3 separate regions of the Homo sapiens genome follow, and all the other regions are linked to region 1. Evidence: fine-mapped expression QTL. A gene starts in region 1. Each other region holds a variant in brackets. All regions are shown on one strand. Distances are from middle to middle. Region 1 holds the start of TBC1D30 (TBC1 domain family member 30). Region 2 overlaps TBC1D30 (TBC1 domain family member 30). Region 3 has its middle 18 kb from the start of GNS.

Region 1 (8,101 bases):
AGTAAAGAAGAATCTAAAGAGAGGTCTTTTTATCAGTCATGACACATGGGTGAGTTGACAGCCTAGAGTCTAGATGTCAGCTTTGGCAGTCTGGAAATTTGGTGTCTTCAGGTTACTGACTGGTAAGTGAACTCAGGGGTATTGACTGCTATTAACTGGTCAGTATATTCTCTGTGCTGCAGCAGAGTCTATATGGGAAATCAAATGACAATCCAAAGTTTGCTTGGTGAGCATGACGTCAGAGCCAAAGGGAGTTGGATGGTCTGAGTGGCATATGTCACAGCCCCAGGGGCAGGACGTCCTCCTCTCCACTCCAGAGACAGTGTTGTAGAACAGAGCTGATTGCTTGTCCTCTTGGCTTGCCTAGTGATGGAAACCGAGCATGAATAGCCTCTCTTGTTAAAATAGAACACAAAACCCTCTAAGATTTGAGCATATGAGAGGTCTGGAAGACGAGACTGTGCATGCAGTTACCAACTTGTCCTGCTGGATTTTCCCTCTCCTGCCAGTTCCCTCTCTTTGACTTCGGGTGTTCATCACCATCTTCAGCCCCAGGGTATACTGTGCCCTCTAAAAAACTGGTCAAAGGGAAGCATCAGACCTCTTCCTATGGCTCTCAGTACAACTGAGATAGGCTGCAACAGCCAATGAGTGTCTTATTAAAATTAATACAAAGCTGAAGGATACAAACATGTACCAAAACTGTAAAAAGTTGATGGTTGATGGAGGATAAATTTCTGTACCGGAGCTCGCAGCAAAAGGTTGGGAAATTTAAGCCAAGCAATTAGTCATGACCAGCTTAAACAGTGACTTCATTTTCTAAAGTGATGCCTTTTCAAAGAGTACTGCCCTTTTGAAAGCATCTTTACCTCTGCCAGGCAGCTACAACTGAATAGCTTGCATGTCCTTTATTAGCCTGCTTTACTTTTGCAGATGGCTCATCTCATTTTTAATAGATTCTTTTACAGCTCATTCTTAGGGTTGCACCATTTCTGACATTGTCCTCAAATTCTGGGAAGCGTCATAGGAATGCCTTCTTTTTCTGGCTTGTTTAGGCTATCTTTATGAAGGCATTTAAAAATATTCAATATTTTTTCAATCAATAGCAGCCATTTTTTTTTCTTTTGATACAGGGTCTTGCTCTCTCACCCAGGCTGGAGTGCAGTGGCCAATCATAGCTCACTGTAACCTTGAATTCCTGGGTTCAAGTGATCCTCCTGCCTCAGCCTCTCAAGTAGCTAGGACTACAGGCATACACTACCACACCTGGCTAAGTTATTTTATTTTTGCAGAAACAGGGTCTTGCTATTTTGCCCAGACTAGTCTTGAACTACTGGCCTCAAGTGATTGTCCCACCTTGGCCTCCCAAAGCACTGGGATTACAGACCTGAGCCACAGCACCTGACCCAGCAATTAATTGCTTTTTGTTTTTGTTTTTACTTCTGAGGCAGGGTCTCACCATCACCCAGGCTGGAGTACAGTGGTGCGATAATGGCTCATTGCAGCCTTGACCTCCCTGGCCTCAGGTGATCCTCCCACCTCAGCCTCCTGAGTAGCTGGGCCTACAGGTGTGTGCCATCATGCCCAGCTAATTTTTGTAGCTTTTTTTTTTTTTTTGTAGAGATGGGGGTTTGCCATGTTGTCCAGGCTCAGCCATTGTTTTTCAAGTTCAAATTGTTTCATCTTTGGCCAATAGGAAGGAGCCTATTTATGTGACTCTTGTGTCTTTTTGACTTGACCCCATTAATTGTGAAACATTTCCTTTCTTTTTGAGCTCATCAAAATGTTTCAGGGTCATCTTGTACTTTTTCTGTCCCAAACCTGGAATCAGTCACTCCTCAAAGGAGCCTTAGTTCCTTTGAGTGGGGAATGGTTTTTAGAGACCATAACCTGGGTGCTGTGGGTGTTCATTGCTGCTGAGTTGTCCTTACTTCTAAACCTATTCAATGAATGTATGTATTTTTTTGAAAAGAAAAAAAAATGAGTTCATACTAGTGTTTCCCATATAAATATATAATTGTAATATTTTAAAGAAAACTTAATTACTTTGGTTATACACATATTTTCTATTACACTGAAAACATCTTGGCTCCATTTGATGTTAGCATACTTATTTATTTGCTTTATCCTGTAGTGGATATAAGAATTTAAGAAATATGAATATTATTAATAACAATAATACTACTGAATGAAATGTAAGGTTTCTTTGCAGTTTTATTTGCTCTGGGAATATGTACAACTGTTGATGTACAGTCATAATATTGTGTTCTATGTCAACTTAAGAGAGAATTATTTTTTTCTGTGTTCTTATGCTATAAGTGGGATAGTCCATTAGGTTGATTTGTTTCCATTAATTTTCAATTGTTAGGGTTTTCTTTTACAATTTAAAAATAATTTATTCATTTATAGTCAGGGACTAGGTCTGTTGCTCAGGCTAGAATGCAGGGGTGCAATCATAGCTCACTGCAGCTTTGAACTCCTAGTTTCAAGACATCCTCCTGCCTTGACTTCCCAAAGTGCTAGGAATACAGGTGTGAGCCACCGTGCCCAGACTATTTTATGTATTTTCAAATTTTATTTTTATTTTTATGTCTTTTTAAGAGATGGGGTCTCGCTATGTTGCCCAAGCTGGCCTCAAACTCTTGGGGCTAAGCAATTTTCCCACCTCAGCCTGCCAAGTAGCTGGGACTATAGGCATGCTGTTCCATCATCCTGGTTTTTTAAAAATTTAATTTGTTAATATTATTAATATAGTGTTATTCCAGAGCCAAAACTACAGGAGGCACATCAAGAGAGGACTCAGTTTTCCATTCTTGTCTCCTCCACGATGTTCCTTCTCCTATACAAGTTTTCTAATTTGTTTTTGGTTTATCCATTTAGTGTTTCTTTTTATAAATATTAGCAAACACAAGTATCTTTATATCCCCCCCCCACACCCTTTCTTTCATCCATTTTAATGGTAAATAGTCTATTGGTGAATATTGCCGTTTGAGAATGACTTTTTTTTTTTTAAACCATAATGATGGGCAATAGTTCAGAACTACTGAAGTCTGGCTGGAGAGATGAGGAACATTACTTTTTAATACTGCTTGAAAAGAGAACACTTTTTTTCTGGAAGCCCATTTTTCTAAAAGAAACAATAATTTTTTTTTCCTTCATTTTCTCCGCGCCTCTCTAATCTGCCAGGAAATAATTCAACGCAATTCGGGCTGAAGCGTGTGCCTCGCCGCCTGCGGTTGGGTCATGGCCCCTTCTGAGACTGCTCGGAAGTGGGAGAGGATGCTTGCCCTTACGGGTGTTCTGCCCCTGAGACTGGCGCCCCTTGGTGCTCCCTCTGTTCCCTCCCAGATCTTGGGAGAAGCACGGACATCTCTGTTTCTGCTTTTGGTCCCCGAACGCAGTTACGCGCCCACTGGCTCCCTGTCTCTGGCGCTTCTGGGCACGGGGGAGCTGGGGCGGCCCCGCCTGCGCACGGCGGTGCCGGGATTGGGGGCGGGCACGCCGCCTCCGTCTCCCACGCGCTCGCTCGCTCGCTCGCTCCCGCCCTCCCCGCCTCGAGCGATCTCCTGCCTCAGCCTTGCAGGCTCCGCACTGCAGATGCCTGCTGGCTTCCCTGCGCTCGGCGGCTCCCGCGGTGCCCCGTAAGTCCCCGTGACCCTCCAGCACCAGCCGGCTGTGCGCTCCCTGCTCCCACGGGCCGGTCAGCCGCAGACACTCACCCAGCTCCGCGAGCTCAGCCGCTCAGCGAGTGGGGTAGCGGGGACCGAGACGGACGGTAGCCGTGCCAGAGCCCGGGGCGCTCTCGGATGCGGCAGGACAAGCTGACCGGGTCTCTGAGGCGCGGGGGGAGATGCCTGAAGCGGCAGGGCGGCGGCGTGGGCACCATCCTGAGCAATGTGCTCAAGAAGCGCAGCTGCATTTCCCGGACCGCGCCCCGGCTGCTGTGCACCCTGGAGCCGGGTGAGGACCCCAGGGCTGCAGATGGGGCGCTGTAAAGTAGCGCCGGGGCTGCCCGCGCTTCTGCCTTAGCCTGACTCCGTCTAGGCCGGGGAGCTCTGGGGAAAGTCCGCGTGCCACCTGGTGCGGGGCACCGCGTTGGCACCTGCAGGGAGCGATTGGTCTGGAAGGGTAGAGGGCAGACGGGGGCCTGGGTGGGGCAGCGGCCACCCCAGGCGCGGAGAACCCGCTGCTTCCACCCTCTCCCCGCGGACCCCCACCCTGCGGCCTGTGTGCTCGGCTTTCTCCGCGTGGCGGGGAAGTGCGGGTGGCTGCCCGGGCCCTCAGAGGCCGCACCACCTATTGTGTTCCAGGCTCGCAGGAAGCCAGACCTTGCGAGAGGTGTGTGGGGGCGGAGAGTGGCACAGGTTTGACACTGCAGGTCGGAGGAGGAAGACAGTGGCTGCAAAGGCAAAATCGGGTGTTATTTTCCCAAGAGTCCCTTCAGCGTGAGTGCCGGGGTCAGCTCGAACTGGAGCCTGTAATTTGTGAGTGCGAGTGGGGAGCAGCAGGAGATCCTTTTCATAGGTGAGGTCCAGGAACGAGCCTGGTCGTGCTAGGCAAGGCCCTTCCCACTGTCAGCCTGTGTTTACCCATCCCTGCTTCTCCAGACTGCATAACTCCGTGTCGGCTCCATCACCCGGCATCCCTCCCCGGGATTTTAAGAGCCTGGCCCTAGCGCGGGCTCCTGGGCACGGAGGTTTCTGGCAAGGAGTGGCTGCAGAGGGAGTTGGCTGTACTCTCACTGGTGCTTGGCGCTCACCTGTTCCCTGGAGTGGCACCGGCTGCGTTCCAGGCGGGTTCACGGTCCCCGGCCCCCGCCCCCCAGCGCCAGCGCCTTGGGGACCTGCTGTAGAGCCGCAGGAGAATCGAGCTGCAGAGTCCCAAAGGGTGGGATGCGGCACTGCCTTTCCCAACCTCGTGGTTTCTTTGTTGTTCTCCCCTAGGAAGTGTCTAGTTGCAGAGGCTGTAGTATTTATTCACCATCTTCCTTTACCTCTTTTTTTTTTCTTTTAAATCTCCTTCCCACGTTAAAAGTAAGTGTTTTGTATTTCTGAATCCGGAATAGCTGTGATTATCAGATGAAACATAAACCTTCTCTCTGCCCGTATTCTGTTAGAAGAAAAGAAAAGTGGGGTGAAAGTGACCTGGTTTAAGCTTTTGCATGCAGGCGGCGAATCAATTTCAGTTAAATCCTCTTGCTCATTTTTGATCATGAGAGGATAGTTGTGGTTTTGGCCAACTAACCCCTGCTGGGTTTCACTATGAGAAGGCAATCGGCATGATGCCCAGCAGGTGCCCCGGAAAAGTCAGAAGAGCATATTGGTCAGACATACAGGGAATCCTTGTAGTGTGGCAAGAATAAGTCAGCGCGGGACCGAATTTCCTGGTCTTTGTTATCAAGCAAACGTCATGATTATACGCTCCTCCATTCAGCACCTCGCGTCCGGACAGCAACCTCACTTGTTTTCAGCGTGCCTTAAAGCGTGCGCTGGGCTGGAAACACTCCCGTGGCCGTTGTTATCACCGTTCTATGTTTGGGCAGGACTTCGTTTAAACCACCTCAGAGAGAGGCGGATCCATGTGGTACTTAATATTCCTTCGGAGAAAAAAAAAACTTATCTATCCAGGCAGAGTATGGTTATGGCCCTGAAGCTTTAAAAAGAAATATCAAGGCATTGATTGGATGCCTGGGATTCTCTGCCACAGCTTACTTTGGAAACCTAGGACCCAACTCAGGAATTTACAGCGCTCTTCCAGGGTTCCAAGAACACCTGCATACTGATATGGGCTTGCAAAAATCAGATACATCTCTTTCCAGCTTCTTGACTCCGTGTATATATATATTTTTTAAAAGACCAGTCTACTTGATTACTTACTATTATTTCATAAATTCTGAAGATTGCTCCTATTCATACCAACCACTAAGAAGTGGAAGTTGTGGAGAAGTTTTTAGTACACCTAATCTACAATCAACAATCTTAGAAACAAAAATGCCATCATTTGACTTTTGAAATTTGTAAAACTTAATGTTATTGATAGTATTTGGCATTTCTTGGTCCTTGAACTTTTGGGCAATAATTCCTTTAAAAAATGGGGCCGGGTGCCGTGGCTCATGTCTGTAATCCTAGCACTTTAGGAGGCTGAGGCAGGTGGATCACTTCAGATCAGGAGTTTCAGATCAGCCTGACCAACATGACGAAACCCTGTTCTACAAAAAATACAAAAATTAGCTGTGCGTGGTAGCACGTGCCTATAATCCCAGCTATTTGGGAGGCTGAGGTGGGAGGATTGCTTAAGCCCAGGAATCCAAGGCTGCATTGTGCTATGATTGTGCCTGTGAATAGCCACTATACTTCAGCCTGGGTGATATATTGAGACTGTATCTCTTAAAAAGAAGAAAAGGAATTGAGACTGAGATAGGTTAGATAAATTGTTTCAGTCTAGGAACCAAGTCGAATGGAGGACTGTATGACTCCAAGCCTGTGGTGTCATTTTTTGTTTTTGTTTTTGCTTTTGTGGTACTCCAGGCATCTATGTAAACCACCGTCATATGTAGTAAGGCACTTTCTATTGCTGTAGGGTATTTTCCTATTTTAAGAATCAATATGCTTACCTTTTGGCAAAATTGACTAAAATTTAGTAAAGATACATACTTTAAAAAAAATTGTGATGATTCAGTAGAATCAAGCTTTTACTAGTATTTTTGATATAACTTGTTATAGTCTCCAAAAATAACATCTATTTATGTATTTTTCTTTCAGGAGTTGATACCAAGTTGAAATTCACTCTTGAGCCATCTTTAGGTCAAAATGGTTTTCAGCAGGTAACTTTGATTTTGAAAACACTCTTCTTTTGGGGTTACCAACAGGGCACATTGAGATATATTCTCAAAGTGGAAATAACGTATTCTTTGATATGAATGTGAAGATGAGTCACTTCAACAATATTTCAGTTAAAGTAGCTTTTGAGCTACAAGTGGCCTGGGTTTATATTTGCAGTGACAAATTTTGCACTTTCTATTAATGGTACATGTGTGAAAAATTTTAAAATGAATAAATTTCACACCTGTACCATAATGTCTTTTATTCTGAACCCCATAATATATATTTTGGCTTATTAACCAGAGCTTCCCAACCATTTTGTTTGTACTGCAAAGGGGTCACAGATGTGTTAAGGGTGCCCAAGGGGTGGGACGTGGCACAGTAATAGCCATGGACTGATCACTTCTGTCTGAAAGAAGCTTTGACTGTTTACCCCATTGTGCTGTGCAAATTTCAGCACATTCTATGAATGTCAAGATGGGAAAAAGATTGCAAAGTGCTTATCTAGGTCACTGTGATCACCTCCTGGGATTTCTTCTTTGTTCCTAGTGGTACGATGCTCTCAAGGCAGTTGCCAGGCTATCCACAGGAATACCAAAGGAATGGAGGAGAAAGGTAAGGAGGACTCATAGGGCTAGAATACAGAAGGATCATCACTGCCCTTCTTTAGAGCCTCTGGAATGTCAAAAAATATATTCTAGGTTTAGTTACTTGAAAACCTGTCTTGATTATTCATTCATGCAATAAATATTTATTGATTATTCTGTGCCAAGTAATGTTCTAGGTTCTAGGGATATAGCAATGGAAAAAAACAAAACAGACCAAAGTTTTTTGTCCTCATGGAGCTTACAATGAATAAAATATAAAGTATGTCAGATGGTAATAAGTGCCATGGATAAAAATAAAGTGTAGAGAGAAATAAAGAGCGTTTAGGAGAAAAGGGGTAAGGAGGTGGAATTTTAAATAGCAAGGTGACATTCGAGTAGGCCCCTGAAGGAGGTGAGAAGCCAGCCATGCAAGTACCTGGGAGGAGATACTCCAGGCAGAGGGAACAGCCAGCGCAAGCACCCTCAGCCCTCAGGCGGGAGCATCTTGCATCTGGGTTGTATTCAAGCAAAGATGGGGTGGGGCGGGGCTGGGGCACAGTGAACAAAGGGGGAAGCAATAGGTGAGGGGGTCATAGAGGTAATGTGGTGGGTTGAGGGGTGGCAGATCGTGGAGAACCTGGTGGGCTATCATAGGTCTTGGGCTTTTGCTCAGTGTGAGCTAGGAAGCACTGG
Region 2 (8,101 bases), 52 kb after region 1:
CACACTGCAAATAAAGACATACCTGAGACTAGGCAATTTATAAGAGGCTTAATGGACTTACAGTTTCACATGGCTGGGGAGGCCTCACAATCATGGTGGAAGGCAAGGAGGAACAAGTCACATCTTACGTGGATGGCAGCAGGCAAAGAGAACTTGTGCAGGGAAACTCCCATTTTTAAAACTATCAGATCTTGTGAGACTTCTGCACTATCATGAGAACAGCACGGGAAAGACCTACCCCCATGATTCAATTATCTCTTACTGGGTCCCTCCTACAACACGTGGGAATTATGGGAGCTACAAGATGAGATTTGGGTGGGGATATGGCCAAACCATATCAGAAACCATGGTTTGAGTAGCATGGTTTTAGATGAGATGGTATATGATAGGATTAGCAGCACAGGTGGAGAGATTGAACTTGAACTAGAGGCAAAAAGACCTTAGCTTCTGAGACTTAGTGGAAGGTGGTGAGTATGGTGGTTGAGGTATCAGCTTCCGAAGTTAGGGAGGATGGGAAATAGAGGCCTTTCAGATCTGATAGCTTTTGTTTTCATGGAGTAATTGGGGGAAAGTTGTTTGGTGGGGATTGGGAGTAAATGAGAGGTTAAAGAAAGTAATGAAGATTTAGTTAGGTCACTGAAGGGAGCGAGAAAGGGAAATGAAAAGATTGTTTGGCATTGAGGACCCAGTGAAATGGGAGGTCATGAATTTAAAGGGCTCAGTTTCAGAAAAGAGAATGTAGATCATGGACCCTAGGTTGGGGCTTTACTAGCAATGTGTGACAAAGAGACAGGGATGCCTGTGAGGGAGTGATCTAAGCGGTCAGCCATGCATCTGGCAGGGTAGGGGTGTCAGTGAGCCGAAGACACATGAGGGGTTGTGAGGAGCCTGAGGAACAAGGAGCCAGAAGTCTCTGTGGTTCATTACCACATATAGTTAGACTGAGAGCCTGAGAGCTAGAAGAGCCAAAATGAGGAGTATTAGAATTAAATATTTTCACATAAGGTAGAGCTGGGTGATAATGTTTAGGATGGAACTGGAGAGGTTGAGGAACTATGAGAATGTAATGGAGGGCCAATCACAGTGACAGTCAAATAATTGGGGAGGTGGCAGGAATGTGGTGAAGAGGAGACAGTTATCAACATTTTTAGTTGATACTGGGGTATGACCAGTGGTAAATGACAACAGTAGAGAAGGGTGGAAATTAGTTCAGCCAGATGACATGGACATCAAGGAAGAAGGAAACTCGCACACAGAGGGAGAGGCCTTCTCCCTACAATTTCTGTCTGCAGCTGCCATCCTGGGACCATGTGTGTTGAATGCTGCATTGGAAATAGGAGTCTGGTCATAGCCGCAGGTGGTCAATGATAATGCCATCGACAGTGCCTTCTAGGAGAACAAAGCTTTTTTGTTCGTTTGTTTTGAGAAGGAGTCTCACTGTATTGCCCAGGCTGGAATGCAGTGGCGCAATGTCAGCTCACTGCAACCTTCACCTTCCGGGTTCAAGCAATCTCCTGCCTCAGCCTCCCAAGTAGCTGGGACTACAGGCATGCACCATCACACCTGGCTAATTTTTGTATTTTTAGTAGAGACAGGGTTTCACCATGTTGGCCAGGCTGGTCTCGAACTCCTGGCCTCAAGTGATCCTCCTGCCTTGGCCTCCCAAAATGCTGGAATTACAGGCATGAACCACGGCACCTAGCTGAGGACAAAGCTTTTGGTGCTTTTCAGTTTTCAATTGGCTTTCGAAGTCCATTGAGGACACAGGAGTGGTTTTTCACCTGTAGGGCTAGATGCTGGATAGCTGTGATTTCACTGCATTCTCACTACCTTTTTATCACTTCTGTCATTCTGCTGGATCTCACTTCATAATATGCAGTGTGTTCTTTTCCTACCTCTCAGAGGCTGACAGATGATAATCCATATGGTCATAGTGTTTGTTGTATTATTTTTTTTAAATCTGCAAAGATTTTTCTAAGTACAGTAACTCAGAGGTTGCTACTCAGAGCCAAGAGCTCTCTGTAAAAAAAAAAATTAGGGAGTCCAGGCTCTGATTAGGAATGAGGGGTCAGATGTTCCTTTTTGTATCATCACCCTGTGGTCCCTTCCTCTTTAAAGAAGAGCGCATTGGTATTCCAGGCTCTTCGGTTGAATTCAGTTTCTGCTGTCTTCAGTCACATGACTCTGCCCCTCCCTGGGGAACACATGGGAAGGGATGTGGTAGACGGGGCTGGGAGGACCTCTAAGTGATTTCTGTTCCAAGATGGATGTGTTTCTTTGTGGTACACTTCATACTACCTTTCAACATTTCTTTCAGACAAAGGGCCAGTGACCAGCATTCTCCCGTCTCAGGTAAACAGTTCTCCAGTTATAAACCACCTTCTTTTAGGAAAGAAGATGAAAATGACTAACAGAGCTGCCAAGAATGCTGTCATCCACATCCCTGGTCACACAGGAGGGAAAATATCTCCTGTCCCCTACGAAGACCTTAAGACGAAGCTCAACTCCCCGTGGCGAACTCACATCCGAGTCCACAAAAAGAACATGCCAAGGACCAAGAGTCATCCGGGCTGTGGGGACACCGTAGGGCTGATAGATGAGCAGAACGAGGCCAGCAAGACCAATGGGCTGGGGGCAGCAGAGGCATTCCCCTCTGGTTGTACAGCGACAGCTGGGAGAGAAGGCAGCAGCCCTGAAGGCAGTACCAGGAGGACGATCGAGGGGCAGTCTCCGGAGCCGGTGTTCGGAGATGCTGATGTGGATGTGTCTGCAGTTCAGGCGAAGTTGGGAGCCCTGGAACTGAACCAGAGGGATGCTGCAGCTGAAACTGAGCTCAGGGTGCACCCACCCTGCCAGCGGCACTGCCCAGAGCCGCCGAGTGCACCCGAAGAAAACAAAGCCACCAGCAAAGCTCCCCAAGGCAGCAACTCAAAAACCCCCATCTTTAGCCCTTTTCCCAGCGTCAAGCCCCTGCGGAAATCTGCTACTGCCAGGAACTTGGGATTATATGGCCCTACAGAAAGAACCCCAACTGTGCACTTTCCTCAAATGAGTAGGAGCTTCAGCAAACCCGGCGGTGGAAACAGTGGCACTAAAAAACGATGATGTCTCCCCGAAACTTTGTATCTGGACTCACCTTTTCACAGTAGTATAAGGGTTGCAGCTGAATGGCTCTAAAAGAGTTTTATTTGTCCAGTGAAAATGAATAGGTTCAGGGATGAGCAACAGCCCATAAAAAATGGGAACTGGAAGTTTTATAATAGGAGTTAGAACAGGGCTGTTTTCCCAGCTACTTGCTAACTGACGAAGTGGATTCTTGTGGCAAAATAAATATTGTGGTTTTATAGTGTGAAGTTTTCCCAATTTTTCATTGTGAGCTGTTTAAAAAAGACTATATCTAGATTGTTAACTCTCGTCCATCCTTCTGTTCTGGGGGCCTTCAGAGTCCCTGTGACAGCACCCCCAAACCTTCCAGTTCTCTGGGTGTTACTAATACTCAAGCATGCACATACCAGCTTGCTAGGACAGAAACTGTAAAAAGAAAGTAAGTTTCTTCGTTACAAAAAACTTCCTGATTTTCCTTTTCATGCTTTACGGAGGGGATTGTGTCGTGTGAGATTTCCCACAGTACCAGTTTCAAATTTTTTTTTTATTCTTATGCTAAATCATAGGAGAAAAATCTAGATAGCCTTTCTTTAACTGTCTATTTCTACCTGCAAAATGAAGAAAACCTTTCATCTGTTGAAATTTCAATCGATAACCCAGCTGAAGATCTTATGCACAGGACACACTTGGCATATGCTTTACGCAGTTGCTCCGGACAGCTTGCTCGCGCCACTGAGCTTTTCCTGAGGTTTGTGTTCGCCTCTCAAGGAGAGCTTTGATCCTCAGTGGTACGGATGACTTGATGGGCTCCATGCGGAGCCTGGCCTGCATCCCCCACCACACAGCTCACTCACCCACCAGCTCTAG[A/G]CTGCAGACGCACAAGGCCTCTGCTCAGAAGCCAGAACACAGCACCTGTGACTCTGTTACTTGAATTTTGTGCTTTTTGATTGGAGTCCTTTGTTGAGTACTTTGTTAATTGAACACTGCCTTTCTCTGGAGAAGGCCCCAGTGCTTTCTAGCTCCCTCTCACTCCTGCCCTTTCTAGCTCTCTCTCACCCAGCGGGTCAGGGATAGCACCTCTTGTCTCCACTATGCAGATGGGAACTCTGAGCCACACAGAGGTGAAGTAGCACTTCAGTTACTCAAGGTCAGTACTCTCGGTATTCCAAGTGACTTAGCCACATTTCCTTCAGTGCAATAGGTGGGTTTAATGCTCTTTGTACACAGATGTATTGGCTACATAGCGTGTAAAAACCAAGACTGGGAAGCCATTCACTAAAATCCCTCCTGACTCAAAGGACCTGTCTCCAGATGGTACAGAGTCCCTTGATGGCATTTTACAAAACCAGCTCTGACTTCCTTATCCTGAACAGGGAGTTTATTTTAAAAATGCTTCATGCACCTGTTATTTGGCTGAACAGAAGGCTCACTCCTCAATCCCCTTCTCCTCGCCATCATTAGAGGAATAGACTCAGCCTTCATGTTTGTCTCTGGAAGACGATTGGCGATACTTGCAGGAATATTGTTGATGCAGCCAATATTAATTTGAGCTAATGGATTGTTAATTCTGAAACGAAAACTGTAACTGTAGAGCAGGCTTTTACTATGAGAGGTACTACTTTTTATAATAGAGAATGTGGTTGTGTGGGCTTTTTTTGAACAGAAAACACAACAATGACCTATACCGTGAGAAAAGCCATTTTATCTTCTTCGTGGTATTTTTACCCCCAAAGGAACTGAAGATGGAAAATATGACTAATAAGTTATTGCAGTTTTGGTCTTGAATTCTGTGCCATCTGAAGTTAGCATCCAGCTTCTTAAAAAGCAGCCACGCCTACAGCCTGTTTTTTGGGAAGGCTGTAGGTGGAGAGATGGGCTTATTTTGCATACCACCCTCAGGGCCCAGAGACCCACTGCATTTTCCAAAGTTAAGCAAATGACACCATTTTCTTCCATCAGCTAAACTTTACAGATAATAGTGTTTCCACCTCATATCCTTTTCTTTGCCCCTTCTCAAATGAGTCAGAATAGTCATGTTCCCCTTGAGGGATGTCTGACTTGAATGGAGAATTGTTCTTTCCTCTCTTGAATCAGCTCACTAGCTCCCTGATGGTCTGGGTTCAAGGAAATGGTTAATGAGGTAGAGGCCACTTATACAAGTCCTTGGGATTGTACCATTGCTGTCCACAAACTTAGTATCAACAACACATGCTGTGCCCTGTGAACACTCTCCTCTCACCTATTTCCAGGGTTGGTCTTCCTGAGAAGGGGATGGATGAGGTAACACACAGTTTGGGATACGTATCTGTTGAATGAATGAATAAGTGAAAGGATAATAGTCCTCTGAGGTAAAAATGGCCTTGTCAGAATTTTGAAAATCCAACAGATTCCTATTAAAGCACTCTGTGTACCAATAACATGCATGCATTGTACCAAGTAATCACAATGTGAATTGGTCAATTTATGAGCCTTGCCTACTTTAGAAAATAAAGAAACCTGCAGTAGCCTCTACCACACAGCATGTACAAAGACCAGTATGGACTTGCTATCTTCCCTATGTATTGGACACTGTATGCAAACACCAGAAGTACTTAACAAGTAGTGGTTTCTTGATTTTTAGATATGTCTGTAGCCTCTTAGCCCTTTTGCCGGGAATCAACTCATTCTGATGCCTCTGCACCTCAGTTCCTCTTACAAAAGCCTCCAGATGATCTAAATCTAGTTAGCAATGTCAGCCTGTGGACTGCAGCTGTTTGGGACATTGTATTCCTTTGTTTGTCTCTTGTTGTTCTGAAGGATTGTATTGATCACAAAGCTATATGCATAAAGATTCTCATTGTTGTAACTGTTCTGCCATTTTCTGAGTGCAAGCATGGAACACTGTTGTGACAGTCCCTTCTCCCTTCTTCCTTCTTCCTTCACCCCCAACCCCAGACCCCCCTTGGTCACATGAACCAGGGAAACAGCCCAATAAGCTCTATCTCCCCCAGTCTAATCGCTGGGTTGCAGGGTGGCCTGTGACCTGCCCAGCATTTGCAGACTCGCTGGTTCCTGAATATGAGTAAGCACAGAGTTTACCTAGAGAGTTTACCTAAAATTAACCTTTAGATCTACTATTTATTTTTGTCTTAATAAAATGAACAATAAATATAGTTTAGCTGCATGGCATTAAGGATTCTGTATGAATAGATGTATAGTTGCTGCCATCTCCCCATATAAAAACTCTCTTTACATCGTTTCTGAGCCACTTTCTTTGCTGTCTGCAGCATTTAAAATATATTATTTTTCCTAATTAGAAAAGTCACAGGTTTTAGAAAATTGGGAAAACAAAAAGAGCATAAAGAATCATCAATACTCTGATATAGATATAGATCTTTCCAGTACGTTTGTGTATGTGTGTACACGCCATTATCTACAAAAAAGTTATGTTGAACATGGTAGTTTAAGCTGTCTTTCTGGTAAATGCTCTTATACAATATGATTTTTAGTGACTAATATTCCCTAATGTGTTCATGCCAGAATTCACATAACCAGTACCTTGTCAAATAGGAGGTTTCTGATTAGATAGTAGTAGAGACAGTATCCTGTTACATGTATGTACATAGCCCGAATTATTTTCTTAGGATATGCGTATAGAAGTGGAGTTGAAGGGTCAGGAAATATGTCCATTTTTAAGATACATATATCTCCAAATTGCCATTCTTAAAGGTTGGAGTTATACAAGTAGTGAATGAGAATGCCTGCTTCTCTACATCCTGGAAGAGGCAGCAGTCTCTTTCCTTTTTTTTCCTTTCTATGACTTCTAGTGTGGAAGTGCCAACAGAAGTGTTTTAGAAGCAGTGATAATGAACACTCATAACACCCATACCTCATTCCTGACTTTTAAAAGAAGCATTAAGTAAGATGTTGAGGTTTCTGGTAGGTGCCTATTATTAGGTTAAGAAAATTCCCTTTTATTCTTTGCTTGCTAAGAGTTTTCTTCATCAACAGGTATTGAATTTCATAAAAAGAACTTTAATTGTATCTTTTGAGAAGGGAATAGTACTTGAGACTTGGTATCCTGAACTCAAAGAAATAGCCATTACTAGGTTTTGTCAAAGAATACCAGATATTTTAGAGTTGGAAGTTATGCAGTAAAAGCTTTATGTGCAAATGTTCATTGAAGTATTAAATGTACTAATGGAAACCTGAAAACAATATAAACATCTGGGAATAGGGGAGATGTTTGGATGAATTATGATTCATCCCCAGGATGGAAATGTGAAGGCCGGTGAGTATTTGGACCATTGAAGTGGGAGTTATCTGTTATCCACATCAGGCAGCTCAGAGTAAAGTCAGCAAGTCTACAGTCATAGAGCCACCAGGATACAGTGATGGATGGGAGGCCTTTGCTGGACAGTGGCTGAAGGCAGAACTGTTGGAGTGGTTCTTCCACAAAGGCAGCCAGTGCTCACCTGAATGGGGACTGGTACTGTAGGTATTGGGTCAGCTTTCATGCCGTTCCCTGCTGGCCATCTCCCAATGCTGAATGTCTGACTCAGTTCAGGCTGCTGTAACAAAGTACCATAGACTGAGGTGGCTTAAACACAGACATTTCTTTCTCACAGTTCTGGAGGCTGAGAAGTCAAAGATCAACGTGTCTGCAAATTTGGTATCTGGTGAGGAAGGGCCCTCTTCCTGGTTTGCAGATGGCTACCTTCTCACTGTGTCCTCACACAATGGAGAAAGGGAGTATGTTTTGGTCTCTTCCTCTTCTGATAAGGGCACTAACCTCATCATGAGGGTCCCATCCTCCTGGTGTCATCTAAACCTAATTACCTCCCAATGGCCCCGCCTTCAAATACCATCACGTTGAAGGTTGCTTCCTTCCTGGTCGTTTGCTCTGGTGAGACCAAATGACCTGCAAAGTGTCACTTGATTCCATTCTCTCCATCCCTTCCATCCCAGGCAATCTTTATCTAGCTACACCAACCTGTGCCCCAGGGGCTTCAAGAGT
Region 3 (8,101 bases), 48 kb before region 1:
ACCTCTCAACTGGGGCCTCCAGCCACCCCTGCCAGTGTTCTCTGGCCAACAGAGATTTGAAAACTTCCTAGGACAAAGTTCCTAAAGGGCAGGGTGAGCTACCATCTTTGCTATTTGGGTGACCTAGCCATTCCAGCCTCTAGGTGTTGAAGAGCCCAAGCCAACTGGGAGAGGAAGTATATCCCAGCACAGCATGGCTGCTCTACAAAAGCATGGCCAGACTGCTTCTTTAAGTGGGTCCCTGATCCCCTTCCTTTTGACTGGGTGAGATCTCCCAACTGGGGTCTTCAGCCACCTTCTACAGGTGTGTTTGAGCCAGCAACAGGTGTGCACTTCCCTGGGATGGAGCTCTCAGAGGAAGGGGTGGGCTGCCCTCTTTGCTGTTTTACAGCCTTCACTGGTGATACTTCCAGGTACTGGAAAACCCAAGGTGACTGGGACCAGGCTGCCAGCAAACCACAGCAGCCCTACAGAAAAGTGATCAAGCTGTTAAAACAAAAACAAAAACCATCCAAAGGTCAGCAACCTCAAAGATTGAAAATAGATAATCCCATAAAGATGAGAAAGAATCAGCACAAGAATGCTGAAAACTCAAAAAGGCAAAATGCCCTCTTTCCTCCAAATGACTGCATCACCTCTCCAGCAAGGGTTTGGAACCAGGCCAAGGCTGTGATGGCTGAAATGACAGAAGTAGAATTCAGAATATGGATAGGAACAAACTTCACTGAATTAAAGGAGGATATTGTAACCCAATGGAAGGAAGCTAAAAATCATGATAAAACATCATAGGAGCTGACAGACAAAATAGCCAGAGTGGAGAAGAATGTAACCAACCTGACAGAGCTGAAAAGCACACTGTAAGAATTTCATAATGCAATCACAAGTATTAATAGCATAATCAAGCAGAGAAAAGAATCTCAGAGCTTGAAGAATGTCTTTCTGAAATAAGATAGGCAGCCAAGAATAGAGAAGAAAGAATGAAAAGGAATGAACAAAACGTCTGAGAAATATGAGATTATGTAAAGAGACTGAATCTTTGACTGATTGGTGTACCTGAAAGAGATGGGGCAAATGGAACCAATTTGGAAAACACATTTCAGGATATCATCCCTGAGAACTTCCCCAACCTAGCTAGACAGGCCAACATTCAAATTCAGGAAATGCAGAGAACCCCAGTAAGATACTCCATGAGAAGGTCATCCCCAAGACACATAATTAACACATTCCCTAAGGTCAAAATGAAAGAAAAAATGTTAAGGGGACCTAGAGAGAAAAGCCAGGTCACTTACAAAGGGAAGCCCAGCAGACTAACAACAGACCTCTCAGAGGAAAACCTATAAGCCAGAAGAGATTGGGGGCCAACACTCAGAATTCTTAAAGAAAATAATTTTCAACCCAGAATTTCATATCTGGCCAAACTAAGCTTCATAAACGAAGGAGAAATAAGATCCTTTTCAGACAAGCAAATGCTGAGGGAATTCATTACTACCAGACCTGCCTTACAAGAGCTCCTGAAGGAAGCACTAAATATGGAAAGAAGGCCGGGCATGGTGGCTCATGTCTGTAATCCCAGCACTTTGGGAGGCCAAGGTGGGCACATTACTTGAGGCCAGGAGTTTGAGACCAGTCTGGGCAACATGGTGAATCCCCGTCTCTACTAAAAATACAAAAATTAGCTGGGTGTCATGTTGCACACCTGTAATCCCAACTACCTGGGAGGCTGAGGCATGAGAATTGGTTGAACCCAGGAGGCAGAGGTTGCAGTGAGCCGAGATTGCACCACTGCATTCCAGCCTGGGTGACAGAGTGAGACTGTGTCTCAAAAAAAAAAAAATATATATATATAGATATAGATATAGATATATATGGAAGGAAAAGACTGTTACTAGCCACTGCAAAAACACACTGTAGTACACAAAGCAGTGACACTATAAAACAACTACATAAACCAGCCTGCAAAATAACCAGTTAACAACATCATGATGACAGGATCAAATGTATACATATCAATAATAACCTTAAATGTAAATGGGCTAAATGCCCAATTAAAAGACACAGAATGGCAAGTTGGATAAAGAACCATGACCTAGTGGTATGCTGTCTTCAAGAGACCCATCTCATGTGCAATGACACACATAGGCTCAAAATAAAGGGATGGAGGAAAATTTACAAAGCAAATAGAAAACAGAAAAAAGCAGGGGTTGCAATCCTAGTTTCTAACAAAACAAACTTTAAACCAACAAAGATAAAAAAAGACAAAGGGGGCATTATATAATGGTAAAGGGTTCAATTCAACAAGAAGACCTAACTATTCTAAATGTATATGCACCCAACATAGGAATACCCAGATTCATAAAGCATGTTCTTAGAGACCTTCAAAGAGACTTAGAGTCCCACACAATAATAGTGAGAGACTTTAACCACCTGCTGACAATATTAGACAGATCATCAAGAAAGAAAATTAACAAAGATATTCAGGACCTGAACTCAGCACTGGATCAAATGGACCTGATAGATATCTACAGAACTCTCCACATGAAAACAACAGAATATACATTCTTCTCATTGCCACGTGGCACTTACTGTAAAATCAGTGACATAATCAGAAGTAAAACACCTCTCAGCAAATGCAAAAGACCTGAAATCATAACAATATCTCAGACAACAGTGCAATCAAATTAGAACTCAAGATTAGGAAATTCATTCAAAACTGTACAATTACATGGAAATTGAATAACCTGCTCCTGAATGACTTTTGAGTAAATAAATGAAATTAAGGCAGAACTCAAGAAGCTCTTCGAAACTAATGAGAACAAAGATATGACATACCAGAATCTCTGGGACACAGCTAAGGCAGTGTTAAGAGGGAAATTTATAGCACTAAACACCCTCATCAGATCTCAAGTTAACAACCTAATATCACAACTAAAACAAATAGAGAAGCAAGAGCAAACAAATCCCAAAGCTAGCAGAAGTCAATAAATAACCAAAATCAGAGGTGAACAAAGGAGATAGTCATGAAAAATCATTCAAAAGATGAATCCAGGAGCTAGTTTTTTTTGAAAAAATTAATAAGATAGATAGACCACTAGGTAGACTAACGAAGAAAACAGAGAAGATTCAAATAAACACAGTGAAAAATGGTAAGGGGAATATTACCACTGAACACACAGAAATACAAGCAACCATCATAGAATAGTATGAATACATCTATGCACATAAACTAGAAAATCTAAAAGAAATGGATAAATTTCTGGACACATACACCCTTTTAAGACTGAGCCAGGAAGAAATTCAGTCCCTGAACAGACCAATAATGAGTTCTGAAATTGAGGCAGTAATAAATAGCCTAACAACCAAAAAAAGCCCAGGACCAGATGGATTCACAGCTGAATTCTAGCAGATGTACAAAAAAGAGCTGATATCATTCCCACTGAAACTATTTCAAAAAGTTGAAAAGAAGGGACTCCTCCCTAACTCATTCTATGAGGCCAGCATCATCCTGAAACAAAACCTGGCAGAGATACAACAACTACAAAAAAACTTCAGGCCAAGATCCTTGGTGAACATTGATGCAAAAATCCTCAACAAAATACTGGCAAACTGAATCCAGCAGCACATCAAAAAACTCATTCACCAGGACCAAGTGGGCTTCATCCCTGGGATGCAAGGTTAATTGAACATACACAAATCGATAAATGTGATTCATCACATAAACAGAACTAAAGGCAAAACCACACGATTATCTCAACAGATGCAGAAAAAGCTTTCGATAAAATTCAACATCCATTCATGTTAAAAACTCTCAATAAACTAGGTATTGAAGTAACATACCTCAAAAAAGTAAGAACCATATATGACAAACCCGCAGCTAATATCCTACTGAAAGGGCAAAAGCTGGAAGCATTCCCCTTGAAAACAGGCACAATACAAGGATGCCCTCTCCCA[C/T]TGCTCCTATTCAACATAGTATTGGAAGTTCTGGCCAGGGCAATCAGGCAAGAGAAAGAAATAAAGGGCATTCAAATAGGAAGAGAGGAAGTCAAACAATCCATGTTTGCAGATGATATGGTCCTATATCTAGAAAACTCCATCATCTCAGCCCAAAAGCTTCTTAAGCTGATAAACAACTTCAGCAAAGTCTCAGGATACAAAATCAATGTGCAAAAATAACTAGCATTCCTAAACACCAACAACAGTCATGCCAAGGGCCAAATCAGGAATGAACTCCCATTCACAATTGCCACAAAAAAATACAATACCCAGTAATACAGCTAACTAGGGAGGTAAAAGATCTCTACAAGGAAAACTACAAACCACTGCTCAAAGAAATCAGAGATGACACAAACAAATGGAAAAACATTCCATGCTCATGGATAGGAAGAATCAATATCATTAAATTGGCCATGCTGCCCAAAGCAATTTATAGATTCAATGCTTTTCCCATTAAACTACCATTGACATTCTCCACAGAACTAGAAAAAACTATTTTAAAATTCATATGGAACCAAAAAGGAGTCTTGCTCTGTTGCCCAGGCCGGAGTGCAGTGGTGCAATCTCAGCTCCCTGCAACCTCTGCCTACCAGGTTCAAGTGATTCTCATGCCTCATCCTTTCAAGTTGCTGGGATTACAGGTGTGTGCCATCACATCTGGCTAATTTTTGTATTTTTTTAGTAGAGATGGGGTTTCGCCATGTTGGCCAGGCTGTTCTCAAACTCCTGCTCTCAAGAGATCCACCTGCCTTGGCCTCCTGAAGTGCTGGTATTACAGGCGTGAGCCACTGCACCCAGCCATCAGTGGTTCTTTCTTATATCCAGAGCTTCAGGGAACTTGTGTGGGGCCTGCCAGTTTCCTGGTGGCAGTAGTGTAGGGTGAGAAAAGCGGCTGTCCTTTGCCAATACCGCTTCTAGGATTATATTTACTAAAGTTAACTTTTCTTAGGAAAGTAGGTAATTGGTTGTTTTTTTCTCTGGTTTTCATGGTATTCATTCAATTAGTTAATTAAACAAATATTTATTGAGCAGTTACAATGTGCCAGGGATTGTTCTAAGTGATGGGCATATATCAATGAACAAAATAGACAAAATTCCTGCGCTCGGAAGCTTACATTTTAGTGGCAAAAGACAGATAACAAAATAAATCAGTAGATTATATACTGTAGTATGTGGGAAGAGGGTATTATGGGAAAAAAAAGAACAAGGAAGAGAACTAAGGAAAACCTGGGGGATGGGGAGCTGCAATGTCAAATAGGGTGGTTATGGAGTGATTCACAGAGAAGCCTTTTTTTTTTTTTTTTTTTTTTTTTAAGATGGAGTCTCACTCAGTCACCCAGGCTGGAATGCAGTGGCGTGATCTCGGCTCACTGCAACCTCCGCCTCCTGGGTTCATGTGATTCTCAGGCATGGGCCACCACACCCAGCTAATTTTTGTATTTTTAGTAGTGACGAGGTTTCACCATGTTGGCCAGGATGGTCTCGATCTCTTGACTTCATGATCCGTCCACCTCGGCCTCCCAAAGTGCTGGGATTACAGGTGTGAGCCATCGCGCCCGGCTCACAGAGAAGACATTTAAGCAGAGACGAGACTTGGTGAGAGCAGAGTCATGCCAATATCTAGGGGAAGATCATTCCATAAGTACAATGATCTTAAGCGTGCTTTCCTTGTTAGTTTTTAGTTTGCCATTTTCCTCTCTTTAGATTTGGTAATGATGGGGAATGGGAAATAATTTTGAAGTTCTTATTAACTTAGAAATGTTGAATGTCAATAACCTATTGTTTTCTTGGTCTCTTTTTTCCCTTCAGCTCACTTTGAGTTTCTTTACCTGTAATTCCTGATGGAGATTCCCTAAATGAGAATAGTGCTGAAGACTAACAGTTAATCACATCTCTTCTTAGGGGGAAGAGATAAAAAGGGCTGGGAAGCCAATTAAAAAAATAGGTCCAATTTCAGTGTTTACTCCTCTGAAAGTCCTGCTCATTGCAAAGTTTGGCATACGAAGGAGGACTTGGAACTCGTTGAATGCCAGGGACAACAGGGAAAAAGACCTCAAAAAACAAAACAGCAATATAATAATGAATTCTACTCTCATTTCATACATTTAAACATTAAATGGTAACAATAGTCATTAATATAGTTATAAAACCATAAAATAATATTTCCAGTATAATTTAAAATTCCGAATACCTAAGCGAAAAGTACAACTTCTGCTTGTCTCATATTAACTCCAGTTTCAAAAAGGGCCCTTTTATTGCAGTGCTGGTGTCAAGGTACACCAGATTTCTACCGGCAGGGTCAGGCTCTATTATGAAAGTGCCTTGGAAGACAAAACTGTGCTGAACAAACACGAAACACCAGTGTTGTTCACCAGGTGTGTTGTTGCCCCTTTTGGAAGTGTGGTCAAGTATTTAATAGCATTTGACTAATATATATTCATCCATAATGAAAGCCAGACACTTTATGAAAAGTTCACTTTATTCTTTGTGAATGGACACGTTATTTAGCCTCTTCGTGCCTCAGCTCCCTCAGCTGAAAAGTGAGAATATAACGACACTTAACTGCTTTATAGGGTTAAAGTGAGGATTAAGTGGGATAATTCATGCAAATCTCTAAGAACAGTGCCTGACATACAAAAAGCGCTAAACATGTTGCCAATTATTAACTTCACAAAAATATCTACAGTGGAGCGGCAGTTCCGAGTTCTATTGAGGTCTAGTGTAAGATACATCTCTCACAGTATCTTGTAAATTTTTGATTCTACCATCATCAAAACTAGCTCAATTAATGTATCAGTTCGGTCATCTCAAGAACATTTATTAAACCCTCACTCTGGTTACATCTTGTATCAGGGAATTAGTTGATTTTAATCCAGTGCTTTGGTTTTCACTGGAGGAAAAAAGTTCACAGCGTTATTAAGTCCCAGATATTTGCCAGGTGTTCAGAGTTTTAGAAAGCTTATTGTCAGAGACTAAACTAAGAAGGCTTTTGAAGGCGCTCAGATCAGGTGGGAAAGTGAGAAGGGCTGGTATTGTGTTCCGAGTATGTCAAGAAGGAGCTCCTGGCCTGGGCCTATTGATGGGCGTTTAGAACCCTCCTGGGCATTATTTCTAGCTGGCGGCTGAATAAGAGGCAAGAGTCACCCTCTTTTTGAGTTAAATCACGTGCTTAATTAAAAGTGAAGGTGGCGGCGGCCTCAGCGCCCTCCCCCTCCGTGCTGCTGGCTTCTTCCCAACGGTGTTCTGGCCACGTCCTGCGCCTTCTCGCGCACGGGAGAGCGCTCTGGGTAGAGGCCGGGCCCGGGCAGCAGGTGGCCCCAGGTAGCTCAGTGGCGTGGCAGTCTCCTTCTCGCCCGGTCCGGAGCGGAGGGGAGCGGCTCAGGTGCCGGCTCGGGGGAGGCCCGGGCACCTCGGGGATCCAGAGCCCGCTGGCGCCGCGCCCGGGAGGGCACCACCGGCGAGGACGAAGCCGCGCCTCCTCCCGGAACTGGCCGGCGCCGCGAGGCGGGAGGAGCAGCGGGAGCCGGGCAGCCGCGCGCCGGGGACCATGGACGTCCTTCCCACCGGCGGGGGCCGCCCGGGGCTCCGGACGGAGCTGGAATTCCGCGGCGGCGGTGGCGAGGCGAGGCTGGAGAGTCAGGAGGAAGAAACGATTCCTGCAGCTCCCCCAGCCCCGCGCCTCCGGGGAGCGGCGGAGCGGCCGCGGCGCTCCCGGGACACGTGGGACGGCGATGAGGACACGGAGCCCGGCGAGGCGTGCGGCGGCCGCACAAGCCGCACGGCGTCCCTGGTGAGCGGGCTGCTCAACGAGCTGTACAGCTGCACAGAGGAGGAGGAGGCGGCGGGCGGGGGCCGCGGGGCCGAGGGCCGCCGGCGGCGCCGCGACAGCCTCGACAGCTCCACCGAGGCCTCGGGCTCCGACGTGGTCCTGGGCGGCCGCAGCGGTGCCGGCGACTCCCGCGTGCTGCAGGAGCTGCAGGAGCGACCGAGCCAGCGGCATCAGATGCTGTACCTGCGGCAGAAAGGTGAGGGCCGGGCGCAGCAGGGTCCCGGGGGCTTCCTGGAGCCGGGTTGTCCTCGCCGTCTCTGCCCGCGCTCCAGCGCGCACCTG

Evidence for each region. PIP is the estimated chance that this variant, and not a neighbour inherited with it, causes the effect.
Region 2: its variant is fine-mapped to the expression of TBC1D30 in tibial nerve (GTEx, PIP 0.98). The same link has a PIP of 0.9 or more in stomach and visceral fat.
Region 3: its variant is fine-mapped to the expression of TBC1D30 in whole blood (TOPMed, PIP 0.98).

What each region holds. Positions count from the first base shown.
Region 1 is chr12:64,821,074-64,829,174 of GRCh38, forward strand. It overlaps TBC1D30 (TBC1 domain family member 30), which reads left to right and starts at 3,574. Exons shown (of 12, transcript NM_015279.2): 1 at 3,574-3,960; 2 at 6,762-6,823; 3 at 7,371-7,436. The coding sequence starts at 3,807. RefSeq lists a silencer at 3,394-3,633 and enhancers at 4,272-4,779, 6,457-6,506.
Region 2 is chr12:64,872,684-64,880,784 of GRCh38, forward strand. It overlaps TBC1D30 (TBC1 domain family member 30), which reads left to right. Exons shown (of 12, transcript NM_015279.2): 12 at 2,318-8,101. The coding sequence ends at 3,105. Among named protein-coding and RNA genes, the nearest start is that of LINC02389, 7.0 kb to the right of the region's middle. RefSeq lists enhancers at 54-133, 164-263. The variant A/G (reference allele first, on the strand shown) is at 3,973.
Region 3 is chr12:64,773,272-64,781,372 of GRCh38, forward strand. It overlaps a transcript of TBC1D30 not described here. Among named protein-coding and RNA genes, the nearest start is that of GNS, 18 kb to the left of the region's middle. RefSeq lists silencers at 7,300-7,579, 7,660-7,759. The variant C/T (reference allele first, on the strand shown) is at 3,949.